Linked DNA regions of Homo sapiens. The protein of the gene in region 1 interacts with the protein of each later gene in a pairwise test. Each region holds a gene or a part of one and is shown in the gene's direction. Other genes may lie near its edges.

Evidence for each region. The genes of interacting proteins can lie anywhere in the genome.
Region 2: the proteins of CLCN7 (region 1) and AQP7 interact in a two-hybrid assay, tested with the Homo sapiens proteins (one large-scale study listed by BioGRID).

What each region holds. Positions count from the first base shown.
Region 1 is NC_000016.10:1,451,029-1,454,528, reverse strand, and holds part of CLCN7 (H(+)/Cl(-) exchange transporter 7), read left to right. Parts: intron 1-63; coding exon 64-118; intron 119-634; coding exon 635-695; intron 696-1,635; coding exon 1,636-1,774; intron 1,775-2,812; coding exon 2,813-2,906; intron 2,907-3,500. UniProt on the Homo sapiens protein: Slowly voltage-gated channel mediating the exchange of chloride ions against protons. Functions as antiporter and contributes to the acidification of the lysosome lumen and may be involved in maintaining lysosomal pH.
Region 2 is NC_000009.12:33,385,569-33,389,068, reverse strand, and holds part of AQP7 (aquaporin-7), read left to right. Parts: intron 1-1,976; coding exon 1,977-2,100; intron 2,101-2,527; coding exon 2,528-2,665; intron 2,666-2,873; coding exon 2,874-2,992; intron 2,993-3,202; coding exon 3,203-3,420; coding exon of another isoform or gene 3,421-3,451; exon of another isoform or gene 3,452-3,500. UniProt on the Homo sapiens protein: Aquaglyceroporins form homotetrameric transmembrane channels, with each monomer independently mediating glycerol and water transport across the plasma membrane along their osmotic gradient. Could also be permeable to urea.

The sequences.
Region 1 (3,500 bases):
CAGCAGAAAGGAGCTGTGGGCCTTTTCCCTCACATCCTCTGCCTTCTCCCTCTCTCTGCACAGAAAATGGCCTACACGATCCACGAGATCCCGGTCTTCATCGCCATGGGCGTGGTGGGTAAGGGCTTCTCCCAGCACCGCAGGGACGGCCTGCGGGCCTGGCTCAGCTGTGACGTGGCCATAGAGACGAGGACTGGAGGCTGTGGCTCCCTGGAGCCTGCCCTCATCCCAGGGCCACCCGGGGGCCTCCAGATTCTTCCATGGGCAGTACACGTGGGGAGTGGGGAGCCCAAAGCTTCGCTTCTGTGGCTTCCCGTTGTTTATCTCTGTTGGCAAAAACCACAGGGCTGCAGGGATGGATGGGATTTCCTGTAAGAGATAGAATTGCTCCCACCAGTATTTATTGCTCTGCTGGACACCTTTGCCCTGGAAGGAAGGCAGAGCCTTTGAGAAACAGCTCCCCCAGCCCTCAGGGTGTGATGATGTGGAGGAAGCATCTTACCAGGACCCCCTAGCCCCCTGCCGTCCCCTTCCCTCTGCAAACCCTCCAGCTTCTCCTGCCATCTGGGAGCCGGCGGGCGGAGGCCCGCACTTTTCCTCCGGTGTCGCTGACTGGCCTTTCCCCTGTTCGCAGGCGGTGTGCTTGGAGCAGTGTTCAATGCCTTGAACTACTGGCTGACCATGTTTCGAATCAGGTGAGGAGAAACCGCATTGCATATCGCGTTGGCAGGCGTGGCCACACAGGCCCTTTGAAAGCGGACGTGGTGGAATGGGGTTTACACTCCTAGGCCACAGCCGAAAGAAAGGCTGTGTATGCAGCGTCCTTCCTGATGGTTTCCCCGGTGGAGCTGGTCAGAGATGTGTCCCGGGGCCTGGAGGGTGACGGACTAGCCCAAGGCTAGGAGTGCGAGGGCTCCTGGAGGACGGCCCCTGGGTAGGAAGTGAGGCCCTGCGTGGGATCGGGCCTGGGCGAGGCATGCCCAACCTTCACCGCCTGGCTCTGCCTGGTAGCAACCGCAGCTGTCCTGGGACACCGGGGCCCCCCGGCTTCTTCCTTCTTGGTCTGTGCTGATTTCAATACTGTCGGGTACAGCCGGGGCACGGGTAGCGCCACTTCCCACACATCTGGAGAAGTTGCTGCCGAGGAGTCTTTACCCCAGGGAAGAGGACGACCCCAGGACATTTGGGTGCCTGATTGATGATTAAACACAGGCCTGGCCGGGCGCGGTGCCTCACGACTATAATCCCAGCACTTTGGGAGGCCGAGGCGGGTGGATCACCTGAGGTCGGGAGTTCTAGACCAGCTTGACCAACATGGAGAAACCCCGTCTCTACTAAAAAATTCAAAAAAAAATTAGCCAGATGTAGAGCCGGGCGCCTGTAATCCCAGCTACTCGGGAGGCTGAGGCAAGACAATTGCTTGAACCTGGGAGGTGGAGGTTGCAGTGAGCCAAGATCGCAGCACTGCACTCCAGCCTGGGCAACAAGAGCAAAACTCCGTCTCAAAAACAAAAACAAACAAACAAAAAGCACCACGGGCCCAGTGTCCTCCATCAGGGACTCGAGTTGCCATGGGGCCTGCGGAGGGGCCGCGCTGCCGTCCTGCCTGCCATGCAGCCTGATTCTTGGTTCCAGGTACATCCACCGGCCCTGCCTGCAGGTGATTGAGGCCGTGCTGGTGGCCGCCGTCACGGCCACAGTTGCCTTCGTGCTGATCTACTCGTCGCGGGATTGCCAGCCCCTGCAGGGGGGCTCCATGTCCTACCCGCTGCAGGTGGGAGGCTGGGCCCGGGCGGGGTCCAGCAGGCAGGGCAGCCACAGGGCGGCCTCCAGGAGGCTCGCTTAGGCTACGGGAGGAGGGCTGCCCACCCCGCCGAGTTCCAGAAGCGCATGGGCTGGCGTGTCTCAAAGAGGGTTAGTCCTGTCCACCCAGATCTCAGAGGAGGCCAGGTGTCTGCTGAGGTGCCAGGGGAATGGGCGGTGGTATGGGGGCCAGAGGCTCCCCCCAGTCCTCTTCCCAGAATGGCAGCCTGACGGGGCGAGCCTCAGGCGCCCTATGGGGGCACCATAGATGTGGACCCAGGAGAAATGCAAACCTCCGTCCACAACTGGACCTGTGCCTGGCGCTCACGGCTCACCGCCGTCCGTGCGTCCATCTGCACTGTGACACGGTTGCCCTGGAAAGCACTACGCTCAGAGGAACCACACGTGAGGTCACGCGACGTAGCCCCATTAACATGAAACATCCAGAACAGGGAGAGCCTAGAGGCCCAGCAGACCAGTGGGTGCCACGGCGGGAGTGGGCAGGATGGGACGGGTCAGGTGTGAACCGTTAGAGACGTGGGAGGCCCGGGGCCATGGGGTTGACCAGCCTTGCTACACTCTGCTCCAGCCCCGTGGATAACACCCCCTGTGCTGCTGGAGCCCAGGAGGCTCTGGGCCTGTGGCACCGGGGCGCCAACAGCCTCTTCTAGGAGCTCATGTGAGCGCCTGGGCCCACCTTCCCCGGCACCAGGGATGGACAGCGTCTCAGCCCATGGTCCTGCTAACCCACCCCCCAGGGCTAGACACGGCCCCCTGCTGGGCCTAGGCCGTGTGTGTCCTCCTTTCCCTCCGTGACCATGGCTTGGGCCTTGTGTGTCCTCCTTGCCCTCTGTGACCGTGGCCCTGACCCAATGGCAGGATCGTGTGGTTTCGCGCCTGATGCTGGCCAGGCACAGGGTACACGGCCTCTCACGGCGACACCAGGTTTGTGCCTGCAGCCCACCAGCTCATCTCCCCTCCCAACGTGTGCTCTCTCCCGACCCCACAGCTCTTTTGTGCAGATGGCGAGTACAACTCCATGGCTGCGGCCTTCTTCAACACCCCGGAGAAGAGCGTGGTGAGCCTCTTCCACGACCCGCCAGGTGTGTGTGGGCAGTGCCGCTGGGCAGGCCCTGGGATCAGGGCCTGGGTGATGCCTTCTGGCTGAGTGTCCCCTGTGGGCTGAGGTTGCAGCCCTGGGCTGGGGGGTCATCCCTAGCATGGATCATAGCAGGGACTCACTCCTGTAATCCCAGCACTTGGAGAGACCAAGGCAGGAGGATCACTTGAGCCTAGGAGGTTAAGACCAGCCTGGGCAACTTAGCGAGACTCTGTCTTTGCAAAAAAGCAACATTATCTGGCTACGGTAGTACACCCACAGTCCCAGGTACTTGGGAGGCTGGGCCGGGAGGATTGCTTGAGCCCAGAAGGTTGAGGCCACAATGAGCTGTGATTACATCACTGCATACCAGCCTGGGTGACACAGCGAGACCCTCTCTCAAAAAACAAAAGAAAACCCAGCCTGGTGACTCCCACACCAAGACCACGGCCTGGCCTCGCTCGACCACAAGTGTTTCACGGAAGCGCAGACCGCGACCTTGGAGTGCCGGCCTTTCACCTCTGCAGTTGTGTCCCTGGCGGTCTCACCCGCCCTGCACGCAGTACAGTGCTGCCTGCTCCAGGAAAGGAACCCCAGG
Region 2 (3,500 bases), on another chromosome or scaffold:
GCGACAGAGCAAGACTCTGTCTCAAAAAAAAAAAAAAAAAAAAAATTGGCTGGGTGCCGAGGCACATGCCCATAGTCCCAACTACTTGGGAGGCTGAGGTGGGAGGATCACTTGGGCCCAGGAGATGGAGGCTGCAATGAGCCCTGATCATGGCACTGCACTCCAGCCTGGGTGATAGAGCAAAACCCTGTCTCAAACATCAAACAAACAAACAAAACAGTGGCACAAGAAAGCAAGGCATGCATGGAGCAGCACAGTTGTTTGGTTTGAGGCCATCTGGCACAGGTAACTGCCTGGATTTAATCCTGGCTCACCAGGTACAGGCTGTGTGACCTTGGACAAGCCATTCAAGTTCTCTAAGCTTCAGATTACCCTCTGTCAAGTGGGGGAGAATAATAGTGCTTAAGTCATAAGATTGGTGTTAAGGGTTAAAGGAGGTGATCAGTATAACTCGCTGGCATGTAGGCAGTGCTCAATAAATGGTTATTATTATTTAGTAGTAATACTATTGCTGAATACAAAGAGTATTGGGGCAGATATGAAACAGGCAGAAAGGATGAAATTATGCAGGGTCTTCAATGGTGGCCTACTGAGTTTGGACTTTATCCTAGAAGTGGAGGAGAGCCAGTGAGTGAGTCTGGGGAAGACGCGATGGGGTTTTTGTTAGGAAGATCACTCTGGCTGCAAGGAGGAGGCTGGGTGAGGTTTGGGGAGAATGTAAGCAGAGCTGATTGGATGCTGGGGAGGATGGCGAGGAAGCTCTCATTTGCAACATCTGTTTCTGGCTCGGCCAACGGGGATGGGGAACATAGAGTGAGGAGCAGGTGTGCTGTGAGATGGCGAACCTTCAACAGAGCCTGAGACGCCCGCGGAACACCAGGAGAGTTCCAGTGGGGATTTGCAAATAGGGATCCGGCTCCCCCGCGGAGATGACGGGAATTTTAGCGCATCAGGCATAGCTGAGACTGTCTACGTGGTAAAACCATGCCTGAAAAGACCTTTGGAAAATCAGGAGGTTGCTGGAGCCCTTGGAGAGAGCTTTGGTGTCTGTGACATGTGGAAGTGGAAGCCAGATTGAGGAGGGGGTGCGAGGGAAGGGGTGAAGCAGCTGGCCAGCGTGTTCTCTCCTGCGGCCTGACTGAAGCAGGGAGGAGGCAACCAGGAACCCACAGCTGGAGAAGGACGCTGGGCAGGGGTGGGACAGTTTGCTGGGAAGGATGAGACTCCAGTGTGTGGGAGCCGATCAGTGGGAGGATGGAAGGTATGGGGGAGACGGAGGCCTCTGCAGAGGGAGAGGATAGCACAGGAGCCAGGGCTGAAGGGAACAGTGGCTCTGGACTGAGGCTAATGGGCCTGAAGGTAGGCCCCTTCCCCTGTGAAGGCGTCATTATCTGAGGAGCCGTGAGGGATGGGCAAGAAGCAGCAGCTTGGGAATGCCGCCTGAGGTCAGTGGAAATGAAGCTGAGGGCAAGACAGTTAGGGCCCCACTGTTCCAGCATTGTGGGAATTGCGGTGGAGTGTGTGTGTGTGTGTTTGTGCAGGGAGGGGTTCCTGGCAGAGTCAGGCACGGATGGATTTGGAGGTCCCTTGAAGAAACTTCCTTCAGGCCAGCCTGAAGTGTGAGAGACTCTGAGGGGGTGCAATGCATGCCAGCCATCCCCTCCTCGCAGCCCTGCCTCACCCCAAAACTTCAGGTGGGCCTGGGGCTGAGGTGCTTGGATGTTTGTCGTAAGAGCTTCTAACTCTGCCGCTCCACCCGGCTCTCAGTGGCTCAGGTCTGAGAGGCCTCAGCAGGGGCAAGGAGAGGAGGCAGTGAGGAGGGAAGGCTCTGGAGGAAGAGGGCGTGGCAGCGGGTCTTCGAGGCAATGCCAGGGAGGCCCAGGGCATGGGGGTGAGGAGCTAGAACTGAGCTCTGAGCCCTCCTCTGAGGTTGGGGCTTCTGGGCAGGCAGCCCCCTTAGAGGCCCTCCCTTGTAGGTATTCGGCCTTGGTTCCGTGGCCCATATGGTTCTAAATAAAAAATATGGGAGCTACCTTGGTGTCAACTTGGGTTTTGGCTTCGGAGTCACCATGGGAGTGCACGTGGCAGGCCGCATCTCTGGTGAGTGAGCCCAGGCCCTGCCGGACCGGGCAAGACCAGGTGTCCCCAACAGGCTCTTTCCTGCCCGCCTCAGCCAGCTTCTTTGCCAGCACAGCCAGTGCCTCAGCCTGGCCACCGGGCGGGAGGAAGTCTCCTCTGAACCCCGTGCCTATGACGTGTTTGCCCCAGATTCTTCCTGGGCCCCCCGACCTACCATTTTCACTGGCTGGGTCATCTTAGGCAAGCCATCGCCTCTGTGTTCCTCAGTTTCCTTGAGAGTGAAACGAAGATGGTGGCCCCTGCCTCACGGGGTGGTTGTGAGGGCTCAAGGAGAGAGCTCTGTCACGGAGCATGCTGTCATACACACTAGCCATCGTTGTTCTCATACTGTTTGTCACTGTTGTTTGTTCTGCTCTCACTCCCTGACACACTTGCCTGCTGCCCGCAGGAGCCCACATGAACGCAGCTGTGACCTTTGCTAACTGTGCGCTGGGCCGCGTGCCCTGGAGGAAGTTTCCGGTCTATGTGCTGGGGCAGTTCCTGGGCTCCTTCCTGGCGGCTGCCACCATCTACAGTCTCTTCTACAGTGAGTATCCTGCCCGGGTGTCCGCCTCTGGCCTCAGCCGCCTCCTATGAAATATGGGCAGATTGGACCTCAGTGTCCTGATTTGTAAAAAATAGCTGGGAGAAAAAAGCCTTGGAGATCCCCCACCCTCTAACCTATAACCTCATTTCTGGGACCCCGGTGGGGCTTAGTTGGGAGCAGGTTCGCATGACAGTCTGTGTCTCCGCAGCGGCCATTCTCCACTTTTCGGGTGGACAGCTGATGGTGACCGGTCCCGTCGCTACAGCTGGCATTTTTGCCACCTACCTTCCTGATCACATGACATTGTGGCGGGGCTTCCTGAATGAGGTCAGTGGTCGAGGATGAGTATCCCTCCCCCTGCCCTCCACCCCTCAGGACGGAGCCAGCAGGGAGTCCCTCCGGATAGACAGGACAAGAACTCTGGATGGAGACTGTACCGAGACGTGTCTCTGCTGGTGGGCTTGGGTCTGGGGCACTGCCGAGGTCCTGTGGCTTGGGGAGGGGCCCAGGTGAGCTGCCACAGCATCTGCTCCTCAGGCGTGGCTGACCGGGATGCTCCAGCTGTGTCTCTTCGCCATCACGGACCAGGAGAACAACCCAGCACTGCCAGGAACAGAGGCGCTGGTGATAGGCATCCTCGTGGTCATCATCGGGGTGTCCCTTGGCATGAACACAGGATATGCCATCAACCCGTCCCGGGACCTGCCCCCCCGCATCTTCACCTTCATTGCTGGTTGGGGCAAACAGGTCTTCAGGTACTGCCCCTGCCCAGGCCCATTCCTTTGAGTTTTTCTGTGGGTCCCCTGTGTGTTGAGGGGTGGGGGGTGATGTGAGG